7 separate regions of the Homo sapiens genome follow, and all the other regions are linked to region 7. Evidence: fine-mapped expression QTL. A gene starts in region 7. Each other region holds a variant in brackets. All regions are shown on one strand. Distances are between the middles of the regions.

What was found.
Region 1: its variant is fine-mapped to the expression of HSD17B11 in whole blood (TOPMed, PIP above 0.99). The same link has a PIP of 0.9 or more in subcutaneous fat.
Region 2: its variant is fine-mapped to the expression of HSD17B11 in whole blood (TOPMed, PIP above 0.99).
Region 3: its variant is fine-mapped to the expression of HSD17B11 in whole blood (INTERVAL, PIP above 0.99).
Region 4: its variant is fine-mapped to the expression of HSD17B11 in adrenal gland (GTEx, PIP above 0.99).
Region 5: its variant is fine-mapped to the expression of HSD17B11 in whole blood (INTERVAL, PIP above 0.99).
Region 6: its variant is fine-mapped to the expression of HSD17B11 in whole blood (INTERVAL, PIP above 0.99).

The regions. Positions count from the first base shown.
Region 1 is chr4:87,339,796-87,343,875 of GRCh38, reverse strand. It overlaps HSD17B11 (hydroxysteroid 17-beta dehydrogenase 11), which reads left to right. Exons shown (of 7, transcript NM_016245.5): 6 at 3,270-3,386. Among named protein-coding and RNA genes, the nearest start is that of HSD17B13, 19 kb to the right of the region's middle. The variant A/G (reference allele first, on the strand shown) is at 2,347.
Region 2 is chr4:87,366,219-87,370,298 of GRCh38, reverse strand. The region is part of intron 4 of HSD17B11 (hydroxysteroid 17-beta dehydrogenase 11); the gene reads left to right. Among named protein-coding and RNA genes, the nearest start is that of HSD17B11, 23 kb to the left of the region's middle. The variant C/T (reference allele first, on the strand shown) is at 1,737.
Region 3 is chr4:87,356,972-87,361,051 of GRCh38, reverse strand. It overlaps HSD17B11 (hydroxysteroid 17-beta dehydrogenase 11), which reads left to right. Exons shown (of 7, transcript NM_016245.5): 5 at 3,636-3,773. Among named protein-coding and RNA genes, the nearest start is that of HSD17B11, 32 kb to the left of the region's middle. The variant A/T (reference allele first, on the strand shown) is at 2,267.
Region 4 is chr4:87,351,711-87,355,790 of GRCh38, reverse strand. All of the region lies in intron 5 of HSD17B11 (hydroxysteroid 17-beta dehydrogenase 11), which reads left to right. Among named protein-coding and RNA genes, the nearest start is that of HSD17B13, 31 kb to the right of the region's middle. The variant G/A (reference allele first, on the strand shown) is at 1,844.
Region 5 is chr4:87,435,872-87,439,951 of GRCh38, reverse strand. NUDT9 (nudix hydrolase 9) reads right to left here. Exons shown (of 8, transcript NM_024047.5): 3 at 1,580-1,675. Among named protein-coding and RNA genes, the nearest start is that of NUDT9, 15 kb to the right of the region's middle. The variant A/T (reference allele first, on the strand shown) is at 2,503.
Region 6 is chr4:87,300,380-87,304,459 of GRCh38, reverse strand. HSD17B13 (hydroxysteroid 17-beta dehydrogenase 13) reads left to right here. Exons shown (of 7, transcript NM_178135.5): 7 at 1-666. MIR5705 (microRNA 5705) reads left to right here and starts at 3,877; the gene lies at 3,877-3,965. The variant G/A (reference allele first, on the strand shown) is at 2,142.
Region 7 is chr4:87,389,027-87,393,026 of GRCh38, reverse strand. HSD17B11 (hydroxysteroid 17-beta dehydrogenase 11) reads left to right here and starts at 1,839. Exons shown (of 7, transcript NM_016245.5): 1 at 1,839-2,166. The coding sequence starts at 1,957. RefSeq lists enhancers at 972-1,544, 1,558-1,627.

The DNA.
Region 1 (4,080 bases), 49 kb after region 7:
AACAAAAACCTGAGATTTAAAGAGTTGAGGCCAGGCACAGTGGCTCACGCCTGTAATCCCAGCACTTTGGGAGGCCAAGACAGGCAGATTACCTGAGATCAGGAGTTCGAGACCAGCCTGGCTAACATGGTGAAACCCCGTCTCTACTAAAAATACAAAAATTAGCCAGGCGTGGTGGCACATGCCTGTAATCCCAGCTACTTGGGAGGCTGAAGCAGGAGAATTGCTTGAGCCTGGGAGACGGAGGTTGCAGTGAGCTGAGATCGTGCCACTGCACTCCAGCCTGGGCGACAGAGCGAGACTCTGTCTCAAAAAAAAAAAAAAAAAAGAGTTGAAATGTTTTCCCCAAAATTACTCATTACTTAAGTGGTTAAAGTAGGTCATCAAATACAATCCTTCAGACGAAAATACTCCTTCCCCCTCAGTATTTCTCTACCCCAACATGCACCCTCCTTTCCCACCCCAGCAGATTGGCTTGAAGTGTTTTTGGATAGTTTCTACAAAATCCATTAAGAACATTTGTTTAATGGGATTTGTAACTCTCGTTAACTTTAGCGTATTGGGAAAAAAAATGTTTCCACATACTGACATTTTAATGATTAAGATACTATTTTGCTAAGAAATTGAGTTTTTTCTGAAAGCCTTTTCTTTTGGCTTTTAAAATTATGATATTGAACAGTCATTGTATTTCAATAAGAAGTTATCTGACAGGGGCTAAAAACCTTAGGTAAAGAAATCGGGTACACTAGAAAAGTTTGGTGAATGCAGCACCGCTTGATAGGTAGGTTAGCAAGGCCACAGTGTGGATGAGAGAGTGCTCTATTTACACAGGTGTCTATAAGCTTTCATTGAGCTTGAGAATATTGAAGTCTGGTAGCAATGTGCTACAAAATGAATTTCCCTCTAAATGCTTTTCAAGGCATAGCATCCTTCAGTTTCTGGATTCATCCTCCTTGATACCCCTGCCTGTTTATGCTGCAAGCTTCCGTTGCCTTTGATTTTTTGCTTCCATTAGGCCAAAAGCCATCGATTTCATTATTACATTTCCTCTCCTATCAAATCTCCAAGATTTTCATATGTAATACTATTGCTTCAAGGTCCCATGGTGAACACAATATTCTAATAAATGAATGAACTGTGCTGAGAATTAAAGCTTATATATTTTTAAGCTCTACTCTCCTTCATGGATCCAATAATCATGCTCACTTTTAAATACAATATTATACTTCTCAATTGTCCCAGTTTTACTTCAAAATATATTTTTTTTCTGAATGAATTATTCTTTATTTATTTCTAAAGAATTTCATCCAGTTTTGTTTTTGTTTTTGTTTTTTTGAGACGAGATCTCACCATCTTGCCTAGGCTGGTTTCCAACTCCTGGGCTCAAGTGATCCTCCCGCCTAACCCTCCCAAATTGCTAAGATTACAGGCGTGAGTCACTCTGCCTGGCACATCCAGTACTTTTTGCCTCACTTCTTTTTTTTTTTTTTTTTTGCAGCGAAGTTTCACTTTGTTGCCCAGGCTGGGGTGCAGTGGCACGATCTTGGGTCACTACAATCTCTGCCTCCTGGGTTCTAGTGATTCTCCTGCCTCAGCCTCTCGAGTAGCTGGAATTACAGGTGCCTGCCATCATGCCTGGCTAATTTTGTATTTTTAGTAGAGATGGGGTTTCATCATGTTGGCCAGGCTGGTCTCAGACTCCTGACCTCAAGTGATCTGCTTGCCTCGGCCTCCCAAAGTCCTGGGATTACAGGCATTGAGCACCACGCCTGGTGTCTCACTTCTTTTAACTAGACACACACATTAAAAATAAGCCTCCCCAAAATGTTAGCCACCCAAATAGTTTAGTGGCATGGCAAATTTCATGAGTACATTTAATTATGTATCATTTTTTCTAAGTCATTAATAAAATGTTAAAAAGTCTCAGTACTAACTCTTGTGCAGCTCCTCTCTAATTGCACTTCTGTAACTGATTTTTTTAAGCCACTTATCTATCTATTTATTTATTTAGAGACAGGGTCTAGCTCTGTTGTCCAGGCTGGAATGCAGTGGAACAGTCATGACCCACTGCAGCCTCAGCCTCCCAGGCTCAAAGGATCCTCTAGCCTCAGCCTCCTGAGTAGCTAGCACTACAAGAGTGCACCACCACTCTTGCCTAATTTTCTTTTGTATTTCTTTGTAGAGACAGGATTTTGCCATGATGGCTAGGCTGATCTCGAAGTCCTGGGCTCAAGCGCTCCACCCGCCTCAGCCTCCCAAAGTGCTGGGATTACGGGGATACAGGCCTGAACCGTCACACCCAGCCTAAAACCCACTTTTTGGGGGCCACCTGCTAGTCTGTGGTAC[A/G]TATACTTGAGTGATTACACAACAAAGATGTAACATGGAACTAAGTAACAAAGCCAAAACCTAATTGCAGTGGCTCCTGCCTGCAATCCCGGCACTTTGGGAGGCCGAGGCTGGCGGATCACTTGAGTCCAGGAGTTCAAGACCAGCCTGGGCAATATGGTGAAACCCTATCTCTACTAAAAATACAAAAAATAGCCTGGAGTGGTGGCGTACATCTGTAGTCCCAGCTACTTGAGGGGCCAAGGCAGGAAAATCGCTTGAACCCAGTAGGTGGAGGTTGCAGTGAGCCAAGATCTCACCACTGCACTCCAGCCTGGGTGACAGAGTGAGACCCTGCCTCAAAAAAACAAACAAACCAAAAAAAACAACAACAACCAAAAAAACCAAAGACCTAATAAATATAAGCATATCATGTGGAGATGAAGGGCCTAAAGGTGGGCACGTACCTGTCATATTCTAATTCCTCTGATGCTTTAGGAATTGTTCACTAAGGAGACTGAGTATATAATAAAACTTGTATAATAGTATCTGATTTTTTTCCCGAGACTGCTTAAAGTTTAAAAGTAAAGTTGTCAGACCTAATCTAGCTCAATTATATTTGAATCTTAGTTACTTCTATAATTCTTATTTGTGGAATAGGAATTATAATATTGCCTTCATAAAGTTATTGTCAAACGTCAATGGAATAACCTATGTAGAAGGTTTAGCACAGTGTGTGGTACACGATAAGCACTAAGTGAATGATTGTTATTATTATTATCAATGGTAAAGTAGCTACCATTTCTGAGCACCTATACTAGGCTAGACACTACAAATCAGTTATGTTATGGTGTCTGTACCATACTAAAGCTGTTGGTTAGCACCAAACTAAAGCTGAAGCCTCGGTGAAGTATTTTGTTTCTGAAGACTGACTCTGATTTCAGTTTGGGACCCACTCTGGAACCTGAGGAAGTGGTAAACAGGCTGATGCATGGGATTCTGACTGAGCAGAAGATGATTTTTATTCCATCTTCTATAGCTTTTTTAACAACATTGGAAAGGTAAGTGACAGTTAAGAAACCTTAGAAATGAAAGGTAAAATAACAATTATCTATTGCATTTTTTACTGACATTTAAATCAGGCAGTTGATAAAGTACAGTTAAATGGAATTGACTTAATAAAAATAACAGGCTCAATAACATTGAGGCAAGATTGATACAGCTCTTGGGTAAATGAACCGAGTAATTTCCACACATTTTTACTTTTTGTAAAGAAAGAAATTTGTATATTTCTGCAAGTCTTGTCTTATAAATGAATGACTCTGAAGAAGGATAGTTTTTAAGCATCTTTACATAATGGAATCATAGAACAATGATATTAAAGGAGACCAGAGTTAGGTTTTAGGTATTTATTTAAAGATACAACAGATAATCATTGAGCTTTTGTTTTGTGCAAAATCATACTGAAGTATATGAATTGCTAAATTTTTTTTTATAATTTTAGAAATCCTTGAGTCTTGCTTCTTCCAATGTGGTTCTTGGACTACACACATTACCTGGGAGTTTGTTAGAAATACAGACTCTCCTGATCTCTTGAGTCAGAATTTGCATTTCAATAAGTTCTCCTAGATGATTTGTACGCATATTAAAATTTGAGAAGCATTTCTTTGGAGCAGTAGCTCTCAACTTTGGTGCACACTGGAATTCACCTGGGAAGTTTAAAAAATGCTGCTGCCTGAGACCAACTCCCCCAAA
Region 2 (4,080 bases), 23 kb after region 7:
CATTTCAATTCCACTTCCTGTTATTCACACAAAACAGGGAGTTCCCACCTCTAATTTTAGCTTCCAGAATGCTTTGCCCCAGTGGAATTCATCATATATGCTCTGACGCCTAGTTTTTGGGATGAAATGAGAGGAAAAATAAGAGTATTGATCCTTTTCCCTGTAATTCAGCCCTCATCTATCATTGTCCTGAGTTACTACAGCCACAGAAAATAATTTATTCTAGCTCTAGTAGCCTATCTTAGGAAAAAAATTTTAATTTCTTTTCAGAGTTTTAGTTCAACAGTTTTAATGATTAATATGAAGAATGCAAGATAAAAGAACTGGATTTATGGTGGAAGGTGAAGCTTTTGATTCTATTCTAAAATGTTTTTTGCTGCTTGCTAAGTAATTTGTTCACAAGTATTTTGATTTTTAAAAGAAAACAATTAGCTAGCTAATATATTCTGTCAACCCAAATAGCCAATTTATAAGCATGAAAAGTTGCCAGTATGGGAACGCTCAGTAAAACTGAGTTCTGAACATTAGCTTGTAACAAAATGTTATTTAAAAGAAAAATCTGGGGCCAGGCATGGTGGCTGACACCTGTAATCCCCCAGGCTTTGGGAGGCCAAGGCAGGAGGATCACTTGAGCTCAGGAGTTCAAGAATAGCTTGGGTAACATAGCAAGATCTCATCTCTACAAAAAATATTTTAAATTAGCTAAGTGTGGTGGTGCGTGCTTGTAGTCCCAGCTACGCAGGAGGCTGAGGTGGGAGGATTGCTTGAGCCCAGGAATTGAAGGCAGCAGTGAGCCATGATTTCACCACTGCACTCCAGCCTGGGCAACAAAGACAGACCTCAACACAAAAAGAAAAAAAAAAAAAGAATTTGGAATAAGAAGTACTAATTCAGACTATTTTTTTCAGCCCTCCAAGACATCTGAATAATTTAGACTATTTCTAATAAGAAGGAATTTGATGTAATGTTACAAAGTGCAGGGGGCAAAAATCTACTCACTTTTAGCTTTCATATATATATATGCCTTTCTATATATAGGTTCACCATAAAGTTGAAAAATATGTTATTCCTTTTACACACTCAAGATCATTAACTCTGACTTTCAATATATTCTTGCATTTTTGGTCACTTAAGTAAAATCAGAAAATAAGGTTTAGTAAAAGAAAAAACTAAATTTATGGATAGCTTCACCATGCAGAAATGTTAATGGAAAGGAGTCCCGATCCAGACCTCAAGAGAGGGTTCTTGGATCTCGTGCAAGAAAGAATTCAGGGTGAGTCCACAGTGCAAAGTGAAAGCAAGTTTATTAAGAAAGTAAAGGAATAAAAGAATGGCTACTCCATAGACAGAGCAGCCCTAAGGGCTGCTGGTTGCCCATTTTTATGGTTATTTCTTGATGATCTGCTAAACAAGCAGTTTGTTATTCATGCCTCCCCTTTTTAGACCATGTAGGGTAACTTCCTGCCATTGCCATGGCATTTGTAAACTGTCATGCGCTGGTGGGAGTGTAGCAGTGAGGACGACCAGAGGTCACTCTCGTGGCCATTTTGGTTTTAATGGGTTTTGGCCATCTCCTTTACTGTAACCTGTTTTATCATCAGCGAGGTCTTTATGACCTGTATTTTGTGCTGACCTCCTATCTCATCCTGTGACTTAGAATGCGTTAACAGTCTGGGAATGCAGTCCGGTAGGTTTCAGCCTCATTTTACCCAGCTCCTATTCAAGATGGAGTTGTT[C/T]TGTTTCACATGCCTCTTGACATTTCCCCCTTCCCTTTTATAAGAGAACTCTTAATCCTAAGAGTTGCAGACGGATGAAAATCCATCTTTTGTAACTTCTTCAGGCTGAATGGGGCCATGATATTCCTGCCTAACTGTTAGGGTCTCTTGTGTTCAGGGTAGAGAGGAGCTTAGTCAGAAAGCATCAGTGTGGCGAGGGCCATTCATGACTCTTGAGTTTTTTGTGTGTGTGTTTTTTGTTTTTTTGAGATGGAGTCTCGCTCTGTCACCCAGGCTGGAGTGCAGTGGTGCGATCTCAGCTCGCTGCAAACTCTGCCTCCCGGGTTCATGCCATTCTCCTGCCTCAGCCTCCTGAGTAGCTGGGACTACAGGTGCCCGCCACCACACCCGGCTAATTTTTTGTATTTTTAGTAGAGACGGGATTTCACCATGTTAGCCAGGATGGTCTTGATCTCCTGACCTTGTGATCCACCCGCCTCGGCCCCCCAAAGTGCTGGGATTACAGGCATGAGCCACCGTGCCTAGCCGACTCTTGAGTTTTGACAAGAGGTGATATCTGGGAGATTAATAAGTATTTAGTTTAAGAAAACATTTAGTAAGCCTGTCCTGTGTTCCCACACAAAGGGTATAACAGCAATATATTCCATAAGAGTAAAGCAAAGTAAGTAAAGTTATTCCAAGTAAACTAAATTAGAAGGCTTTCCATGAACTGGGCAACTGTTGAGACCAAGCTGATATGGGGTTGCTAGCTGATTGCAATGTGCCTAGAATTTTACATTACCCATCCCTCTTGTTTCTTCTGAGCAGCAGTTAGAGATCCCTGGTTGGTTTACAGGAATAAACAGGGTTAGCCTAAATTGCAGAAACAAACTTAAAAACAACTGAGACTAGAATTTAATAACAAGTATACTATAGTTCTTGAAATATAATATTCTCTCTCCAGTTTCCCATTTTTATTAAAGACACATTATGGTAAGACTGATTTGCTTTATTATACTTGGTCTGATTATTTGTATAAAGTGCAGCGAGAATAATTATTTTTCACACAGGCTTTTTAATTGGCTTTGATGGAACTCTGTTTTATAAGGAATCTCAGGTAAGACTTTTTTAAAGCTAAGCCCTGCCATGGGTTTGTACCCTTAAATACCTATGAGTTGGGTAAAACACTTTTCTTTTGAGGTCCCAAGTTAACTTGGGCCTCCTGGACCTGTAAGAAAGTGACATTCTTTACTTACCATAGGTCAGAAACCCTGTACAGGGACTGTGTAGGCAAAGTATGAGGCCAGTTTCCCATAGGGCTTTTATTGGCTTTACAAGTCAAGTTTGATTCTTTAAAGGAAAGCACACCATTCCAGTCAAAGCCTTGGTAAAATAACCAATTTCTCCAATAGTGTCCCATTACAAAAGAAAACAGATTTTTGTTGCACTTATACAAACAACTATATTGCCATAAGTTAAGAATACTTACAATTGGTTTCCATTCCGGAGAAATCAGGTAGAGAGAAACAAATATGTTTCAAATTTTGTTCATAGGAGTATATTTTACTTAATTGCTGCAAGCTGTAAATAGCTTAAAAGAAGTTTCCTTTGAAAAATAAAAGATCAGCAATATTTTAAGCAAAGTTAAAAAAAATTACTTCAGTTTTCTATTGGTTCAGTTAATTCAGTTAACTCCTGTTCTACTTGTTATTCATGAACATTCCAGCTTTTTATGAGAGTTTCGAAAGTTGTTTTCTTTATTTTAATGTTACAATTTCTAAAGTTATTAGCAACCTGCATTTAAGAACATCTGCTAGAATTCTATAGTTGATTATAAACCACCTTTTAAAGAAGATTAAAACAAGACAACAACTGTCTGTGGATGATAAAAACTTTAGGACAGCCACTATTAAAGCCACAATTGATAAGGAAATTTGGTTACTTTTGTGGCATACAAAATTTTACATAACAATTATAATTATTAGTAACATACACTAAGTCATATTAGAAATAAAGGAGTTTCTTATAACTTTGGAACATATACCAATAACATATTTATACAAATATAGTCCAAAGAAAGCAAAACACTGTTTCACATTTGAGAATGCTTCCTGGATGATTTTTATACCAAATAAGCGAAATTTCACCTTTACATTAATGTATTATTAATGTTAAACCCAATTTTTAATAAAACCTTAGAGACATATTTACCCAATTTTAATGTTTAATCCTAAGGTAAGATTTTATAAACCTTTATAACCCTTTACATTTTTTTGTGAAAGCGCAGATAAGTCCTCTAAGAGAAACCTGTTGTGCTTTTATTCCAATGTTTAATTTATGGAAAAACTGAATAATACCCCTTTAA
Region 3 (4,080 bases), 32 kb after region 7:
TAAGATGGAGTTGCTGTGGTTTACATGCCTCTGACAAAATAATCATGATATGCATGTTATAATTTTTAAGGATATTTTAAATGCAAACATATAGTTATGCATTGAAAAAATATATAATTTTGGCTCTTAATTTAAAATAATATATGTTAATAAATATTATGTGCAACATCGTTTTCTATTTCTGCGTGGGATACCACTGCACATACGTGCCACTAGTTATTCAATTTACTCATTATCATTGGTATTTTGTCACTCTTTCAGTTGCAAGGAACAAAAAACTTAAACTGCCCCAGGCCCAAAGAGGAATTTTTTGGCTCTGTGATTAAAGTCTCAAGCAGGCTGTCTTCCTCTGATGGCCAGATATCTACCAGAAGTTCCAGGGTTAAACCCTTTAAATTCCAAGTCCAGCAGGAAGGGAAAAAAAACATCACTTCAACAGTGGCTTCAAACGTTCTTGTTCTAGAGGTCAGTGACTAGACTAGCCTGGAGCCAATCACTGTATGCATTTGGTGACAGCGGTATTACCAGAACAAGGGGACACAAATGCTGATGGGAAAAAACAACAGCTGTCCACTACAGACATTTCACATTATTCCCAACTATTTGCTTTAATGAACTGCACTCCAGGGACTATCCTTGAACATTAATCTTTGGAGACATCATTGATTATTACCTTGGGATAAACACCGGATCTGAGAGCGTGGCATACTTTTAATGAATTTGATACCTTTTGCCAAACTGCCTTCCAGAAAAGGCTACCAGTTAACCTGTGCTTTGGAAAATAGAAAGCTGTGGAAAGAAAGTGTTTTTTGTCACTTTTTTGAAAGTTTGACATATATTGAATGAAGCCTTAAAAAGAAAAGATTGCTAGATTCAATTATATGAGGTGAAATATCTGTACATTGAAAAAAACTCAGATGAAAATTTCTGTCCTTATAATTACTGCTAGGCAAGAATTCCGTCTTGTTTTACTTTGCTTTTATATGAATTATTCCTAAAGTAAATCATTTTTATATGCCTACATCTACTGGCATTTTTATATTATGATTTTTCCATGAATGCCCTTTAGCCATTTATCTATTAGAGTATTGTCTTATTCCTTTATAAAAGTTGCCATATATTAACCTTATCCTTGTCTTATATGTTGCAAATGCTTTACCAGTTTGTCACTTGCCTCTTAATTTGCTTGGAGTTAATAAAGTTTAGAATATATCATATATAAACCTGGTTTACTACCCACACGTAAAACCTGATTCTGCCACTTTGTTTTGTATCTTCAGGCAAGTTTGATAACCCATCTTTACCTCAGTTTCCTCTTTGGTAAATGAGGATCTTAATATATTTTATAGGGGTATTATGAAGATTAAACAAAATAATTATTTAGAATAGGCCAGGTACTGTGGCTCACACTTATAATCCCAGCGCCGTGAGAGACTGAGGCAAAAGTATGACTTAACCCCAGGAGTTTGAAACCAGCCTATGCAACGTAGCGAGACCCACATCTCTACAATAAAGTAAAATAATTATTCAAGTGTTGTGGCACATGCCTGTAGTCCCAGCTACTTGGGAGGCTGAGGTGATAGGATTGCTTGAGCACAGAAGTTCCTAGGTTGAAGTGAGCTATGATTGCATCACTGCACTCCAGCCTAAGTGACAGATAAAGACTCCCCAAAAAACTCCAAAATGCATCAGAATAACTGAGGGCAATGTCTAGCACTTAGTAATCTATTTTAGATCTGATTTTTATTTATGTTGTTTTTCAGTATACAGAAGCTTTTAATCTCATATAATTTAATCTAACAATCTTTCTTTTAAGCCTTCTGTATTAGTCCCCTCTCACCCTGCTATAAATAACTGCCCAAGACTGGCCAATTTATAAAGGAAAGAGGTTCAATTGACTCACAGTTCTGCGTGGCTGGGGAGGCCTCAGGAAACTTACAATTACAGAGGAAGGGGAAGCAGGCATGTCTTAAATGGCAGCAGGAGAGAGACAGCGAGAGAGAGTAAGAGCAAGAGACGAACTGCCAAACACCTAAAAAACCATCAGATCTTGTGAGAACTCCCCCACTATCACGAGAACAGCATGGGGAAAACTGCCCCCACGATCCAGTCACCTCCCACCAGTGCCCTCCCTCAACATGTGGGGATTACAATTCGGATTACAATTGTTGATGAGATTTGGGTGGGGACACAGCCAAACCATATCAGCTTCAATAAGTGCCTAAACTTTTTTTAAAAAGGTAAGAAATTTTTTTTAAAATTTTTT[A/T]AAAAATTTCCACAGCTTTCTGTCTTCCAAAGCATAGATTAACTGGCCAGAATGTATAGCTACTTTGTGTAATTGCTAATTCATACAGATTTAACAGAATAAAAGATTATCTGATAATTATTGCCACTGAATTGCACACTTAAAAATGGTTAAAATGACATGTTTTACATGATATATATTATACCACAACTTTTAAGTTAATTATATATCAAAAACCATTTAATTGTGTACATTAAGTGAATGCTTTGTGTGACATATGAATTTATATCTCAATAAAGCCCTTTTTAAATTAAAAAAACCTGAGAAAGTAATGTCCATTTAGAATAAGTAATTTCACTACTACTTCCAAATGAAAGAGCTGTTAAAATAAACGCTTTGCATTGTGATTCATTCATTTGACAAATATTCATTGAGCACCTAAGAGCCAAGCACTGTGCTGGGCCCTGGAGATTCACTGGTGACCAAAACAGTCATGGAGCTTATAGGAAAGGTGTGGGAAACAGATGTTTTAAAAAATTTAATCTCAGCTGGGCGTGGTGGCTCACGCCTGTAATGCCAGCACTTTGGGAGGCCGAGGTGGGCAGATCACGAGGTCAGGAAATCGAGACCATCCTGGCTAACATGGTGAAAACCCGTCTCTACTAAAAATACAAAAAATTAGCCGAGCATGGTGGCGGGCGCCTGTAGTCCCAGCTACTGCGGAGGCTGAGGCAGGAGAATGGCGGGAACCCGGGAGGCGGAGCTTGCAGTGAGCCGAGATCGCACCACCGCACTCCAGCCTGGGTGACAGAGCAAGACTCTGTCTCAAAAAAAAAAAAAAAAAAAAAAAAAAAAAATTTCTCTAATGAATGTTCAGTTACAAATCTGAGATAGATACTATCATAGAAAACTGAAAATTACTATATAATGAGAAAATAATTTAGACTGGGGGTTAGGAAAGGCCTCTTTGAGGAAGTGAAGCTGTGACTTAAAGGAAGAATAGGATTTATCCAGGAAAAGTTTTCAGCAAATTCTATGGACATCTTAAAGTAAATAAGGAACAGCTTATAGTGACACTGAATTTTGTGGAACAACAACAAAAACAAATACTCTACTAATTTTCTTTAAAAGGCTTTTTAAGGAAATGTTCTTATTCCGTAAGTGATGCTAAGATGCAGTAAATCTTCTATGTCAGGGCTTCTTGGACCTTAATGTGCCTACAGATTTACCTGAGAATCTTGTAAGATGTGGGCTCTGATGCAGTAGCTCTGGGCTGGGGCCTGAGACTCAGGGAATGCCCACATTGCTCTGCAGAGGACCATGCTGAACTGAGGAAAACAGGCAGACATTTCAGAATTCTTGAATTATTTTGTAAACTCTCTATTTTCAGTTCAAGCAAGTTTGCTGCTGTTGGATTTCATAAAACTTTGACAGATGAACTGGCTGCCTTACAAATAACTGGAGTCAAAACAACATGTCTGTGTCCTAATTTCGTAAACACTGGCTTCATCAAAAATCCAAGTACAAGGTAAGTTGAGAAATTGAGACAAAAGGATTGGTGGTTGCTATGAATACCAGCCATTCTGTGGGTTTTCCTAAATGTTTTAATCCTGAAAACACCTGATAGTTAAAGCTCTTAGTTCATTTTGATTTCAGTTTCTGCAGATTGTGGGAAAACAGGTGGAAAGCCAAAAAGAGAGAAAGCAAGGGAGCGTGACTAAAAAAGTAAATATGAATGACATTGGTAAACTTGCTAACTCTTCCTTTTTTCTTCTCCTGAGTAATGATTCACAGGCTTAAATATGCATACATGTCACCAGGTGTGCTTGGGAACT
Region 4 (4,080 bases), 37 kb after region 7:
CTGAGATTACAGGCACGCACGACCACGCCCAACTAATTTCCGTATTTTTAATAGAGATGGGGTTTCGCCACGTTGGCCAGGCTGTTCTCAAACTCCAGGCCTCAAGTGATCCGCCCACCTTGGCCTCCCAAAGTGCTGGGATTACAGGCATGAGCCACCATGCCCAGCTGAGCTCTAGAGATTTTTAATTAATACATAAGAAACAATTCTTCATACATTTGAGAAACCCCTTTATATATCACATCTGTTGCATATGTTTTTTTTTTCCCCAGTTGTTTTTTGTTTGCTTTTAAGCCTATTTTCATTTAGTTTTACATTAAAATTTTCTTAGGGATTTTTTTCTCATGGACTTTAGGTTCTGTGAGGTGTTTAGAAAGGTCTTTCTCATTCCAAGTTTTTGAAAATATTTACCCATATTTTTTCTAGCATATATTTTATGGTTGCATTTTTCATATTTAAATCATTGCCCCACCCAAATTTATTTTGATTTAAGAAGTAAGGTCACAGTATAGTTTTTTCCAAATAGTTAATGAGTTTTCTGCACTATTTATTAAATAATACATCATTTTCCTCACTGATATTAAATTCATATTATAAGTTCACATGCTTACTTGGATAGACTTTTGGATTCTCAATTTTATTGTAATGATGAGATTCAATTTTGCTTGGTTTTGTTTTGTTTTTCAGACAGGGTCTCATTTAGGCTGAAGTGCAGTGGTGTGATCATGGCTCACTGTAACCTTGAACTGGGCTCAAGCAACCCTCCACCTCAGCCTCCTGAGTAGGACTACAGTGTGTGTGCCATCATGCCCAGCTAATTTTTTTTTTTTTTTTTTTTTTTGAGAGCCAGGATTTTGCTGTTTGCCCAGGCTGGTCTCAAATTGGCCTTGAGCAATTCTCCCACCTCCACCTCACCTCCCAAAGTGCCAAGATTATAAGCATGAGTCATTGCATCCAGCCAAGATTCAATTTTTAAGTTTTATTCTGCCCCCTCAAACTTCCCCATATTTCCCCCAATTCAGCTGCCTTTGTTGAAAATGTATTTAAAATTAATGAAAAATATTCAGTGTGGCCACTTGAAGGGTTAATTTGAAGGTAAAATTGAAGATTCTAATTTTTTTCCTTTTTTTATTTTTTTTATTTTTTTTGAGACAAGGATTCGCTCTGTCACCCAGGCTGGATGCAGTGGCACAATCACAGCTCGCTGCAGCCTTGACCTCCTGGGCTCAACCTATTCTCCCACATCAGCCTCCCCAGTCCCTGGGACCATACAGGCATGTGTCCCCACACCTGGCTAATTTCTAAATTTTTTGTAGAGACAGGGTCTCCCTATGTTGCACAGGCTGGGCTCAAGGGCTCCTTGAACTCAATTGAACTCCTGGGCTCAAGTCATTCTCCCAACTTCAGCCTCTCAAAGTGCTGGGATTACAGGCATGAGTCACCATGCCTGGCCTAACAGTTCTATTTTATTATTATTATTATTTTTTTAGTGGAGACGGAGTTTCATCATATTGGTCAGGCTGGTCTCGAACTCTTGACAGCTGATCCACGGCCGCCAGGTTCTATTTTAAACACACTTAATTTAAGTCATCCCACAGGGAAGCAGAACAGAAAGCCAACGTTAGACAGAAATTTGGGAGCTGTCCAAAGATCTCAAGCCCCCAAGAATCTATCAAACAGTCTTTAAAATCTATTTTTAATACACAATTTTTGTTAGAAAACAAAAGTAAGAGTGTATATTTTAGAGGTCAATGTTTAAATTTATCAGTATTAAACAAGAGAACCCTAATTGGAGTCTGAAGAGAGAAGAGAAGGGACAGATATGTTTTTCAGGTTGGGAAAT[G/A]GATCTGAGGAATGAAAGTAGTGAGGATAAGCTTCACTAAAACTGAAAGCAGATGTTGAAGATAAAACTTGCCAGTTTCCTCAATTTCTTTTTCAGTATGTGGATACTAAAATAACATATTTGAGTCAAGTTTTAAAGTCATACTGTCTTTCAGTAGTTAAAAACAGACATCCTATTTTCAAAAGTTATAATTGAATTTTTTAACCTTGCCCCCCCTACAAGGCCGCACAGAGCTGACCTTAACGTGGGCTCCAGCGCCCTCTCCTGACAAAACTTACTAGTGCCATTAATTCCTACATATTGCCAAACTCCTCTCCAGAAATGCTGCACTGATTTGCACTCTGGAGGAAAAGTGTGAAAAGAGGCTAAGATGATTCTAGGCTGAATATAAACCTGGCTAAGGAAGGGCCTAAAGATTGGTCCTGACATATGAACCTCTTTGAGGCTAAGCTGGTACTAAAGTAGACCCCAAAGATGAAGTTGGTTTTAATATAGAAACTTATTACTTCTAATTAGAAGAGAGAACATGTTCCTCGTTAAATACCTGTTTACATTTCAGACACCAAATAAAATGTCATTTTCTTAAACCTCACAACAATACTTTTGGGGAGATGTTATTAGTCCCTCTTCAGTAGATGAGAGAGATCTGAGGTTTAGAGAAATTAAATTACAAGTTATATACCCTTTGGCCCAGTAATCCCCCTTTATGAATCTACCTGAGGGAGATAATTATCCAAAAGTGAAAATATGTGTGCCCGAGGATGCTTATTGCTGATTTGCTGTTAAAAATCCAGAATACTAGAGGGAGGAGCCAAGATGGCCGAATAGGAACAGCTCCGGTCTACAGCTCCCAGCGTGAGCGACGCAGAAGACGGTGATTTCTGCATTTCCATCTGAGGTACCGGGTTCATCTCACTAGGGAGTGCCAGACAGTGGGCGCAGGCCAGTGTGTGTGCGCACCGTGCGCGAGCCGAAGCAGGGCGAGGCATTGCCTCACCTGGGAAGCGCAAGGGGTCAGGGAGTTCCCTTTCCGAGTCAAAGAAAGGGGTGACGGACGCACCTGGAAAATCGGGTCACTCCCACCCGAATATTGCGCTTTTCAGACCGGCTTAAGAAACGGCGCACCACGAGACTATATCCCACACCTGGCTCGGAGGGTCCTACGCCCACGGAATCTCGCTGATTGCTAGCACAGCAGTCTGAGATCAAACTGCAAGGCGGCAACGAGGCTGGGGGAGGGGCGCCCGCCATTGCCCAGGCTTGCTTAGGTAAACAAAGCAGCCGGGAAGCTCGAACTGGGTGGAGCCCACCACAGCTCAAGGAGGCCTGCCTGCCTCTGTAGGCTCCACCTCTGGGGGCAGGGCACAGACAAACAAAAAGACAGCAGTAACCTCTGCAGACTTAAGTGTCCCTGTCTGACAGCTTTGAAGAGAGCAGTGGTTCTCCCAGCACGCAGCTGGAGATCTGAGAACGGGCAGACTGCCTCCTCAAGTGGGTCCCTGACTCCTGACCCCCGAGCAGCCTAACTGGGAGGCACCCCCCAGCAGGGGCACACTGACACCTCACACGGCAGGGTATTCCAACAGACCTGCAGCTGAGGGTCCTGTCTGTTAGAAGGAAAACTAACAACCAGAAAGGACATCTACACCGAAAACCCATCTGTACATCACCATCATCAAAGACCAAAAGTAGATAAAACCACAAAGATGGGGGAAAAACAGAACAGAAAAACTGGAAACTCTAAAACGCAGAGCGCCTCTCCTCCTCCAAAGGAACGCAGTTCCTCACCAGCAACAGAACAAAGCTGGATGGAGAATGATTTTGACGAGCTGAGAGAAGAAGGCTTCAGACGATCAAATTACTCTGAGCTACGGGAGGACATTCAAACCAAAGGCAAAGAAGTTGAAAACTTTGAAAAAAATTTAGAAGAATGTATAACTAGAATAACCAATACAGAGAAGTGCTTAAAGGAGCTGATGGAGCTGAAAACCAAGGCTCGAGAACTACGTGAAGAATGCAGAAGCCTCAGGAGCCGATGCGATCAACTGGAAGAAAGGGTATCAGCAATGGAAGATGAAATGAATGAAATGAAGCGAGAAGGGAAGTTTAGAGAAAAAAGAATAAAAAGAAATGAGCAAAGCCTCCAAGAAATATGGGACTATGTGAAAAGACCAAATCTACGTCTGATTGGTGTACCTGAAAGTGATGTGGAGAATGGAACCAAGTTGGAAAACACT
Region 5 (4,080 bases), 47 kb before region 7:
GGAACCAAGAATACAAAGTGTAACATTTTTATAAGATGATAACCATGATTTCAAATCTGTGATCCTTCTTTGGTTTTATTTGGTACATGCTAATTTTTACACTTCTTTCTAACTTTTTAATATGATTTGGCTCTGTGACTCCACCCAAATCTCACCTCAAATTTTAATTCTCGAAAATTGAGGGCAGAACCTGGTGGGAGGTGACTGGATCATGGGGGACGGTTTCTCCATGCTGTTCTCATGATAGTGAGTGAGTTCTCATGAGAGCTGATGGTTTTTTTGTTGTTTGTTTTTTTGAGATGGAGTCTCACTCTGTTGCCCAGGCTGGAGTGCAGCGGCACAATCCTGGCTCACTCCAACCTCCGCCTCCTGGGTTCAAGCGATTCTCCTGCCTCAGCCTCCCGAGTAGCTGGAATTACAGGTACCCGCCACCAAGCCCAGCTAATTTTTGTATTTTTAGTAGAGACAGGGTTCTGCCATATTGGCCAGGCTGGTCTTCAACTCCTGATCTCAGGTGATCCACCCGCCTTGGCCTCCCAAAGTGCTGGGATTACAGGTGTGAGCCACTGTGCCTGGCCAATCTGATGGTTTTATAAGGGGCTCTTCCCCCTTTACTTATTCACTCTCTGTCACCTGTTGCCATGTAAGATGTACCTTTGCTTCTCTCTTGCCTTCCACCATGACAGTAGGTTTCCTGAGGCCTCCCCAGCCATGCAGAACTGTAAGTTAATTAAACTTCTTTCCCTTATACATTACCCAGTCTTGGGTATGTCTATTTTTTTTTTTGAGATGGAGTCTCGCTCTGTCGCCCAGGCTGGAGTGCAGTGGCGCAATCTCAGCCCACCGCAACCTCCGCCTCCCGGTTCAAGCAATTCTCCTCCCTCAGCCTCCCGAGTAGCTGGGATTACAGGTGCCCGCCACCACGCCTGGCTAAATTTTTTATCTTTAGTAAAGATGGGGTTTCTCCATGTTGGTCAGGCTGGTCTTAAACTCCTGACCTTAGGGGATCCGCCCACCTCAGCCTCCCAAAGTGCTGGGATTACAGGCGTGAGCCACTGCGCCCGGCCAGGTATGTCTGTATAGCACTGTGAGAACAGGCTGATACACTTTTATAATATCTTAAGGAAAATGGATAATTTTTGAGTTGTATAGGAAAATCATTTTTTAAAAAGTATAGAAAGACCCGAATTATTGGGTTATCTTTATTTTTACTCTTACATGTTTGGATAAATTCTTACTTTAAGATACTATACCATTTAATAAATATCTGCTGAACAATTTTTCTTTCTGTTAATGTATTCAATTATTTCTGTTTCCAAGATACAATTACAAAAAGATGCATTCAAACGCTGCCTCTGCCACTTACTAGCTGTATACAAATTGCTTACACTCTCTTCCCTTATCTGTAAAATTCAATTAAAAATATCCACCAACAGGGTTATTGTGCAGATTTAATTACATCACATATGTAAATAAATTTGTACAACATCTGGCACATACAAGGATTTGATAAATATGAACTATCTTTTCTACTTTTTGGTGACTCATTATTGTAAGATGCTCTGCTCCCAGTACCTACCTCGGTCTTCCATTTTCAATCTCATACAGGCCATTCTTGCTCTTTCTCTCAACATGCCCATCCTTTTCGTTAAACTTGGGAGAAAAATTACTTTCACTGTAATGAGAATACCAATGTAAAATAAGAAATAATGATTCAAAACTACCAACAGCTTAATAATGAAAGTCAATCTGTTATCCATAAGAAGTATTCCTGAAACAATAAATTTTTAAGGGTTAGTTTTTTTTTTTTTTTCACAAATCCATCTTATTCCTTCAAAACAATTTTTAAGGCAAAAAAAAGTTTTAACCAAAACACCACACATTACAAAGATATATATTATTATTAAACTTACTAACCCCTCCAGGAAGGACTACCAGCAGAAGAGCTAGAGCTCCTACCTCATGCTACAAGAAGGTCTATTAGCAAGAAGGAATTGTTTGTGGGCACAATATGAAAACTATTTGCTCCCATGTAATTCCAAAAATAAGATTCCTTCTGATGATGTTTCTACTATTTCAAAATAATTTAAATTTCTTCAAATGCACACTGATTAATATTCTTATCAGAGTAAACCCACAAAGCAGTGAATTTGCCCCACAAGCTGCATAATAAATATGATGTAAATTAAAAACAGACATACTATGCTGGAAATGTTCTAGATCTTGATCTGGGCAGTGGTTTACAGAGCTATGTAAATGTAAAATTTTGCTGAGCTGCACACCTTCACATGTAAGAAATGTGCACTTTACAGCCAGGCATGGTGGCTCACGCCTGTAATCCCAGCACTTTGGGAGGCCAAGGTGGGCAGATCACAAGGTCAGGAGATCAAGACCATCCTGGCTAACATGGTGGAACCCCATCTCTACTAAAAAAATACAAAAAATTAGCTGGGCATGGTGGTGGGCACCTGTAGCCCCAGCTACTCGGGAGGCTGAGGCAGG[A/T]GAATGGCGTGAACCCAGGAGGTGGAGCTTCCAGTGAGCCGAGATGGCGCCACTGCACTCCAGCCTGGGCGACAGAGCGAGACTCCATCTCGAAAAATAAATAAATAAAATAAAAATAAAGAAATGTGCACTTTACTATATTTGTATCATGCCACAAAAAAAATTATTTTTTCTTTCTTTCTTTTTTTTTTTTTTTTTTTGAGATGGAGTCTCGTTCTGTCACCCAGGCTGGAATGCTGTAGCATTATCTTGGTTCACTGCAACCTCTAACACCCAGATTCAAGCGACTCTCCTGCCTCAGCCTGCTGAGTAGCTGGGACTACAGGAACATGCCACTATACCCAGCTAATTTTTTATATTTTTGGTATACACAGGGTTTCATCATGTTTGCCAAGCTGGTCTCAAACTCCTGACCTCAAGTGATCCGCCTGCCTCGGCCTCCCAAAGTGCTGGGATTACAGGCGTGAGCCACTGTGCCTGGCCCAACAAAAACATTTTTAAACAGACATAACTAAACTACTCTCCTCACCACTATAAAATCCCTGCCATAATTGCACTGACAGTGAATAAAGAGTTACATAGCACTGGATAGTTCATGGGCAGTTCTGAAACAGGTTTCACTTTTTTCTTGCTTTAATTCCATTGAGTGAGCAAAGAAATATCTGTGGTCTGTTTGGGAATAATTTCCAATTTCAATGATCCATACATTTTCTTAAGACTTCTAGCCAATCTGCCATCTAACATGCAAATAAAAAGAATTAAATGATAAAAACCATGAAATTATAAAACCAGAGCTGCAATGCCCTTGGGACTCTAGAGATTCACCCTTTTAAAAAAATCACCAGGCGTGCCGGCTCATGCCTGTAATCCCAGCACTTTGAGAGGCCAAGGCAGAAGGATCACCTGAGCTCAGGAGTTCGAGACCAGACTGGATGATACAGTGAGAACTCTTCTCTGCTAAAAATTTAAAAGTTAGCCAGGCATGGTGGCACACACCTGTAGTCCCACCTGCTCAGGAGGCTGAAGTGGGAGGATCACTTGAGCCCAGGAGATCAAGGCTGCAGTGAGCTATGATCACACCACTGCACTCCACCCTGGGTTAGAAAAGGAACATAAAGGGATGGGAAAAATGGGGAGATGATGGTCAAAGGGTACAAAGTTTCAGTTATGCAAAATGAGTAAGTTCTAGAGATCTAATGCACAGTGTGGTGACTACAGTTAATAATACTGTTCTTGTCCAGCCTGGACAATACAGTGAGACCCCATCTCTACTTAAAAATAAAATAAAATTAGCCAAGTATGGTGGAACATGCCCATAGTCCTAGCTACTCAGGTGGCTGAGGCAGGAGAATCACCTGAGCCCAGGAGTTCAAGGTTGGAGCAAGCTGTGATCACATCACTGTACTCCAGCCTGGGTGACAGAGAGAGAGAGCACCAGTCTCAAAAATAGTAATAATACAGTATTGTATACTTGAAACTCGCTGAGAGTGGATCTCAACTCTTCTCACTACACACACAAAAAAGGTAACCATGTAAGATTATTTTAAATGGCTTGATTGTTGTAATCACTTCACAATG
Region 6 (4,080 bases), 89 kb after region 7:
TTTAGACAATTTTAGGCTCAAAAATTAAAGCTAACACAGGAAAAGGAACTGTACTGGCTATTACATAAGAAACAATGGACCCAAGAGAAGAAAAGGAAGAAAGAAAGGTTTTTTGGTTTTTGTTTTGTTTTGTTTTGTTTTTTGTTTTTTTGAGATGGAGTCTCACTCTTTCGCCCAGGCTGGAGTGCAGTGGTATGATCTCAGCTCACTGCAAGCTCCACCTCCCGGGTTCACGCCATTCTCCTGCCTCAGCCTCCTGAGTAGCTGGGACTACAGGCGCCCGCCACCACACCCGGCTAATTTTTTGTATTTTTTGTAGAGACGGGGTTTCACCATGTTAGCCAAGATGGTCTCGATCTCCTGACCTCGTGATCCACCTGCCTCGGCCTCCCAAAGTGCTGGGATTACGGGTGTGAGCCACCGTGCCCAGCCTTTTTTTTTTTAATAGAAAAAATAATCCGACTCCCACTACATCAAGACTAATCTTGTTTTGTGTGTTTTTCACATGTATTATAGAATGCTTTTGCATGGACTATCCTCTTGTTTTTATTAAAAACAAATGATTTTTTTAAAAGTCACAAAAACAATTCACTAAAAATAAATATGTCATTGTGCTTTAAAAAAATAACCTCTTGTAGTTATAAAATAAAACGTTTGACTTCTAAACTCTGTCTCTATGAGTGTCCTTCAAGAACCAAGGATGTGGATGGTAACAGCTACATCTGGCAGTTATTAAATGAATCCAGGGGTTTTCTCAACTCTGGTTTCTTTGACAGCAGGAGTGCTGGTTTATCAACTGGAACTTACTGACCCCTTTCTATGTGTGAGATTAAGCACAGTGCTATTGTTTCTAATTTTTTTTCTTAGTCACCGGCAATAATTTTTTTCATAACATTCTTTTAATTTCTTGCCTTATAATCAAGAAATTTATGAGTAAAATGTATTATTTTTAAAGTATGGTTACAAAAATTCAAAAGAGAAACATGGAAAGTAAAAAATAGAAGCTTACCCCCAGCAATCCCATTTCCCAGAGGTCACACTGTCAATGCACAATCTTCCAGTCTTTTACTGATGCATGTTCATGACAAATACATTATATTCTTATTGCATGGGTCGTATCAGTAGTTTCATACCATACATTATGTTCTGTAACTTGCTCTTTTAGCTTACCAACTTATCACAAACAGCTGTTTGTTTCAGTATAGAGAATTCAACTTTTTTTCATGAGTACACAGTACTAAAATGGTACTCTAACCATTCCCTTTTGATAGGCACTTAGGATGTTTCCAGTATTTCTTAGTTCATCTATTTAAATATTAATTTAACAAATACTGAGTGCCCTCAAAGTTCTAGGCCCAGGGAAACATATATGAATAAGGCAAACTCCTTGTCTTAACAGAGCTCACATTCTAGTAGGTGGGACAAACAATAAAGGGACTGCAAATATGAGAGAGAGCATTTAAAGTAGTAGAGTCAGGGAAGAGCACGCTGAGAAAGAACATTTTGCGGACGAACTATTACCATACACAGGCAACTAAAAAATATTTTATGATATACATATTGACAAAAATAGAAACCTCTTAAATTCCAGTGTTAAGTTCAGAGCAGAAAACTTCTTATTTTAATTCCATTTTGGTTTTAATCTTTTATGAATGAAGCTCAGAGAAATGTGCGAGCAAAATATTCATCTCTCTTTGTCCATTTTTCTTGCTTATTTTGAGTGTAGTCCTCCTCCTTAAAAGTTCCACCTGCAGCCAGGCGTGGTGACTCATGCTTGTAATCCTAGCACTTTGGGAGGCCAAGGGGGGCAGATCACCTGAGGTCAGGGGTTCGAGACCAGCCTGGCCAACAAGGCGAAACCCTGTCTCTACTAAATATACAAAATTTAGCTGGGCATGGTGGTACATGCCTGTAATCCCAGCTACTCAGGAGGCTGAGGCAGGAGAATCACTTGAACCTGGGAGGCGGAGGTTGCAGTGAGCTAAGATCACGCCACCGCACTCCAGCCTGGGCAACAGAGTGAGACTCCGTCTCAAAAAAATAAAAAGCTCCACCTGAGCTTCCAAATGTTTTCCTATGACAATCTTCATCTATAATTCTCTCTAAGAGCCCTCTCTTTCACCAAAATCCCAGTTCCAAGG[G/A]CTACTGCTAGGATGTGCAGATCACCAGACAAATATTTTTTTGCAGGGCTTCTATCTATATAAACACTTTTATTAAAAATGCTTTATAAAATTTATAGGTCCATGTGCATGCAGTATAGTGATTTTTTGATAAAGATTTAGAATAATAGGAAGATTTGTGTATTTATTGTCCGAGCAGTACATGTAAAGATTCTTCTCGGCATCCTGGTACTATCTCTTTGGTCCAGGAATCATTTCTTTTTTATCAAATGAGCCATTCCTAGCTAATTTCATATCTTTTACCACAAGAAAGGGTAGCAATGCTGTTATTATTCATAATGCCATGGCTCTTTGTAATATGTTTGTAATAAAATAATATGAATCTTCACCCCTTTCCAATACCCTGCTACCATTTATTTAATCTTAGCTACATTATGCCTTTTGACATTGCATCATCCATTGTGCTACCCATGAATACTGGGTATCACTCAGAGACAATCACTCAAAGATTGTTACTGGTACAACACAGTTCAATATAGTACAATTGTTACTGGTACAATGTTTGATGATAATCACAAATTCAAGTCTTACCCAGGGTATATATACGAGAAAACATGAATGATTCGTTGTTTATTGCTCATTTTAAATTTATCATTTAGAATGTTATAGCATCACATAGAACAACACATCTTTCAACTGTGTCTTGTCTTGAACTTTTTAGGCCATCATCATTACATTTCTAGAATTGATCTCTGCCACTCCTGACCGTACCCTACCTCCCACACACCACCAGCAGCAGAGAGGGGATTGTGGACAGAACAAAATGAACAGCCCCATTTGCACAAGGAATGTCTGTCCCTCCTCTAGGAGAGCTTAACATTGACCAGGGAGAAGAGAACACAGCATCATCACATCAGTCAGAAAGGCCCACTGTTGTGAAGAAGCAATAGTCTTAAAAGCCCTCAGAAGAGATAAGTGCAGCCACCCCCCAACCCCCAGCCAAAAGGACTGCCTGACCCATGGCATAGAACCTGCAGAGGGGATAGGATGATTTTCCTGAATGCCATTGGCAAGCGGGGTAAGGACATCTGATGTCACCCTGCAGCCCTTGGATGTTATATAGCAGAAGTGGCATCATACTCAGAACAAACTGCGAGTGGATGCATGGGTCAACACATGCGGCTTGGGCAGTGGACCTTAGATAGCTTACAACCCTAAATTAGATCTATGCCCAATGTGAGTGAGAATTATCCAAAATCAGCATGTCAGCATCATTCTGGCAGCCAAATTTCATGTAATCCTGCAAAAGAAATTCTTTGCCAACCAGAAGTAGCAGTCTGCTCTCCAGGCCACCCTCCTGAAACGAAAGCCTGGAAACAAGACCCCAGGATGATCCTATAGTTACAAGTTGCAGAGCTCCCCAGGATATCTGGTCAACCTTATACACAGGGAGAGAAAGGGAGAGTACCCCAGAGAGAAAAAACAGAGCAGGCATCCGAAGAGGACTTGGAAAATTTCATAGAGGGCACTCCAAAGAATAAGGCTCTATGAGGCACAGGACTGGGGTAAGGCCCTCACTTGCTCAGATCTGAGGGTGGTATAGGTACAGCCAATCTTCAACTGTATGCAAAGCTTAAAGGAGTAGCAGAGTAAATGTATGGTTGAAGAGAAAATGCTTGGTTAGTTTCTAATCTAAATCTTATATGATCTATATAATAATGTTTCCAAAGATGGAATGAACATCTAACATTAAAGTTCCCCATTTACACAGGCCATGAGCCCCGAAACACCCATCCCAGGATTGCTGATGGGTGTTTCGGGGCTCATGGCCTGTGTAAATGGGGAAGTTTAAACATGCCCTTGCAGCATGGCTGCCGCATGAGAGGCATGTTGGAAATACAAACTGTTGCAACCCATCTCAAACTTACAAAATCAGAATCTGCATTTTTTAAAAACTCCT
Region 7 (4,000 bases):
GAGGTTGCTGTGAGCCAAGATTTCGCCACTGCACTCCAGCCTGGAGACAGAGGGAGACTCCTTTAAAAAAAAAAAAAATAGCATAGCTAGAGCCTCAATATATGAAACTCAACATAGTTGAAACACTTCTTATAGTAGATCACCATGTCAGATGTAATTTATTCCTGTAGGTGTTGGACCAAAAAATTGACAAACACTGAACATATGTGTAGCCCCAGTTACACTTTTACTCACTGTGTAGATTTTAAAGTTGATCTAACAGATTTATTCATTTACAGTATAGGTATAAATATATCCTGACTCTACTTTTCTCTATTTCCTAGGAGGCTTTTGAAAATCAAATGAAATAATATATGTGGAAGAACACTTTGTAAACTTTCTATACAAGTGTTTTGTAAATTTGGATTTGGAGGCTATCCAAAAAAAAGTTGTAGATATTCTGAATTCAAAGAATTCTATAATGGGGTTCACTTTTGTGAGGCTGCCACTATCCCTTCATCCCCTATAACAACGTATGGCTGCTTAAGTAAGAGGGACAATCGAGTTTGAACTATTTGTGAACTTTGATTTTTTTGTGTGATCTTTCTGGCTCTTAAATATGAAAGTTGACTATTGTCACACAACAAAGTCCCTTCCCAAGCACTGGAGTGTCTTGCGCAAAACCCAAATCCAATGTCTGTCAAAAATGAGTTGGAAAAAAATGCATGCAATACCATTATTAAGCTCTTACTGGACACAAGCCCTAGTTAGGTCTTTTCTTCCAGTAACCAATCTCTAGAATTTTTTCAAGTCACTAGTTAGCATATACTGAATACCCATTTATATAGGCTACAAAACCAAATGTTACATAGGTAATCTTTAGGCTAAATGATTTGCTATTTATTCACTTGAATAAAGATAAAATTCCTAAAGTACAACATATATTTTTTATTTTCAAACTCTAATAGGTCAAGTGAAAAATGATTATTCAAATATACTCTTCTTTCTTGTGGAAACAATCCCTTTAATACGATAACAATTTTTTCTGGCGCTTGATTGAAGCTGTCCTTGAACAGACAAAATTTCCCCTGTCTTCCAGAAATCGTGCTTAGTTCAAACTAAAATGTGATGTAGCGCAATTTCTCAGCTGGAAGCAGAACGATTGGTCTTTTCAGGATCCTTTAAGATAGGAATCTACATTTGCATCCTCTATCTAGTTTTTGTTTTTTAGGACAAAGTCTGGCCTTTTCGTCCAGGCTGGAGTGCAGTGGCGCGATCTTCACTCACTGTAGCCTCCACCTCCTGGACTCAAGCAATTCCCGTGCCTCAGTCTCTCGAGTAGCTGGAACTACAGGCACACGCCACTACGCCTGGCTAATTAAAAAAAAAAAAAAAGAGACCGGGGGTCTCCCTATGTTGTTCAGGCTGATCTCGAACTCCTGGGGTCAAGCGATCCTCCCGCCAGGGCTTCTCAAAGTGCCAGGATCACAGGCGAGAGCCGCCGCGCCCAGCGGCACCCCCTATCTAGTGATAAGCAACCTTCAACTATGAAAGAAGCATCTGGCCTGTGGACACTGTCGGTTATCCTTGGAACTTATCCAATTTAGGAAAACAAGTGAGCAACTAACCCTCCAAGGCCGGCTCACGACACCGGGAGAAAGTGGTGTAAAAGACAATCGCGGCCACACACCGCGTGGGGGCTGCGCAAAGCAGAACTAGGAAGCTTTGCTCCGGTCTGGACTTCGTCCCTCCCAGATCTCTGAGCTAGCAAGCACTGCAGCCCGAGCCAATTGCGAAAGACCAACAAAGCCCAGCCCAGCGGAAGGAACGGTTTCGGAGTTGTTTTTCTTTGATACGGGAGTTCCTCCTTGCTCTCGCCCCTACTCTTTCTGGTGTTAGATCGAGCTACCCTCTAAAAGCAGTTTAGAGTGGTAAAAAAAAAAAAAAACACACCAAACGCTCGCAGCCACAAAAGGGATGAAATTTCTTCTGGACATCCTCCTGCTTCTCCCGTTACTGATCGTCTGCTCCCTAGAGTCCTTCGTGAAGCTTTTTATTCCTAAGAGGAGAAAATCAGTCACCGGCGAAATCGTGCTGATTACAGGAGCTGGGCATGGAATTGGGAGACTGACTGCCTATGAATTTGCTAAACTTAAAAGCAAGCTGGTTCTCTGGGATATAAATAAGGTAACAGTGTTTACTATGTTTTACTTTCTGGTACCTTTAATTTGTGGATGTGTCTGCATTTTGCTGGCAACCACCCTTTACCTCATCTCTGCAAAGCAGGGAGGAAAAAAAAATTAGTATTGCCATTTTGCAGATGGGAGGGCATGAATTAATATGTTGTATGATCACATGATAAACAGACCTAGAGGTTATAATAGTCCCAGTTACTGCCCCATTTGTAAATTGATCCCCATTTTTGCCCTAAGGATAACTCATAATTTTTTCCTGAACCTGATTTCATTGATCCCTCTATTTTAAAAATAGGGAAAAAACAATCGTTTTAGCTATATATTAAAAGAGTAAGAAGCTTGTACCTATTAAGAGAAAGTCCTACTTACTGTTAATGAGAAAAGTGGTTTGAAAGATTATACTCGCCGTTGGCTCACGCCTGTAATCCCAGCACTTTGGGAGTCCAAGGCAGGCGGATCGCGAGGTCAGGAGATCGAGACCATCCTAACACACTGAAACCCCGTCTCTACTAAAAATACCAAAAAAAAATTAGCCGGGCGTGGTGGCGGGCGTCTGTAGTCCCAGCTATTGGGGAGGCTGAGGCAGGAGAATGGCGGGAACCCCGCGGGGCGGAGGTTGCAGTGAGCCAAGATGGCGCCACTGCACTTCAGCCTGGGCGACAGAGCTAGACTCCGTCTCAAAAAACAAACAAAAAGATTATACTCAACAGAAACCAATGCTACATTGCCATAGTTATTGCCAAGAGTAATTTTAAAAAGCATCTTTTCCGGGAGGCTGAGGTGGGGGGTTGCTTGAGCCTGGGAGGTGGAGACTGCAGTGAGCTGTAAACGCCCCACTGCACTCCAGCCTGGGTGACAGAGTGAGACCCTGTCTCAAATTTTTTTAAAAAACATTTTTTACCACGTTTGACCTGTGATACTGAAGGAGTGGCGGGAAAGCATCTTTTAGTAAAAACAATAAAAGGGAAAAAAACTTTCAGTGTAATTTTTTACCTAGGACAAGTGTAGGTGTGGCTTAGGGAGGAGAAGAGGACCTAGAATCCAACCTTTTATTTGACCTTTGGTAGATGAACAAAGGGGTTTCTAGAAGATACCTGATGGCCTGAAACATTATCCATTACACACTAGTTGACATGCAATGCTGTAAACAATAATTCAAAGGATGTGAAGTTAAATGAGGGTTAACCCAGTGAGTGGCTGATGAAGACAGCAATCAACAAATAATGACTGTCTGCTGCTTAGACATTAGGGATAGGGTGACAAACAGAAAATAAGGTTCCATGACCTCAGTCTAGTAGGGAAAATGGACATTAAGTAATTACAAGTGCAGGCTGGATGCGGTGGCTCACACTTGTAATCCCAGCACTTTTGGAGGCCGAGGCGGGCAGATGACCTGAGGTCAGGAGTTCAAGACCAGCCTGGCTAACATGGTGAAACCCCATTTCTACCAAAAATACAAAAAATTAGTTGAGCGTGGTGGCGTGTACTTGTAATCCCAGCTACTCATGAGGCTGAGGCAGGAGAACTGCTTGAACCTGGGAGGCAGAGGTTGCAGTGAGCCGAGATCATGCCATTGCATTCCAGCTTGGGCAACAAGAGCAAAACTCTGTCTTAAAAATAAATAAATTAATTAAATTAAATTAATAAATAAAAAAGTAATTACAAGAGCAATGAAAAATACAACCCAGGTCCAGCCTGGACCAGCATGGTCAAGGTCTGGCATGGTGATATAGTCAGACACATCTGAGCTTTCGTTTTCTGATTGGGTAACTTACTCAACGTTTCCACAGCTTTAGTTCCTTTTCTGCAAAATGGATAAAATAACA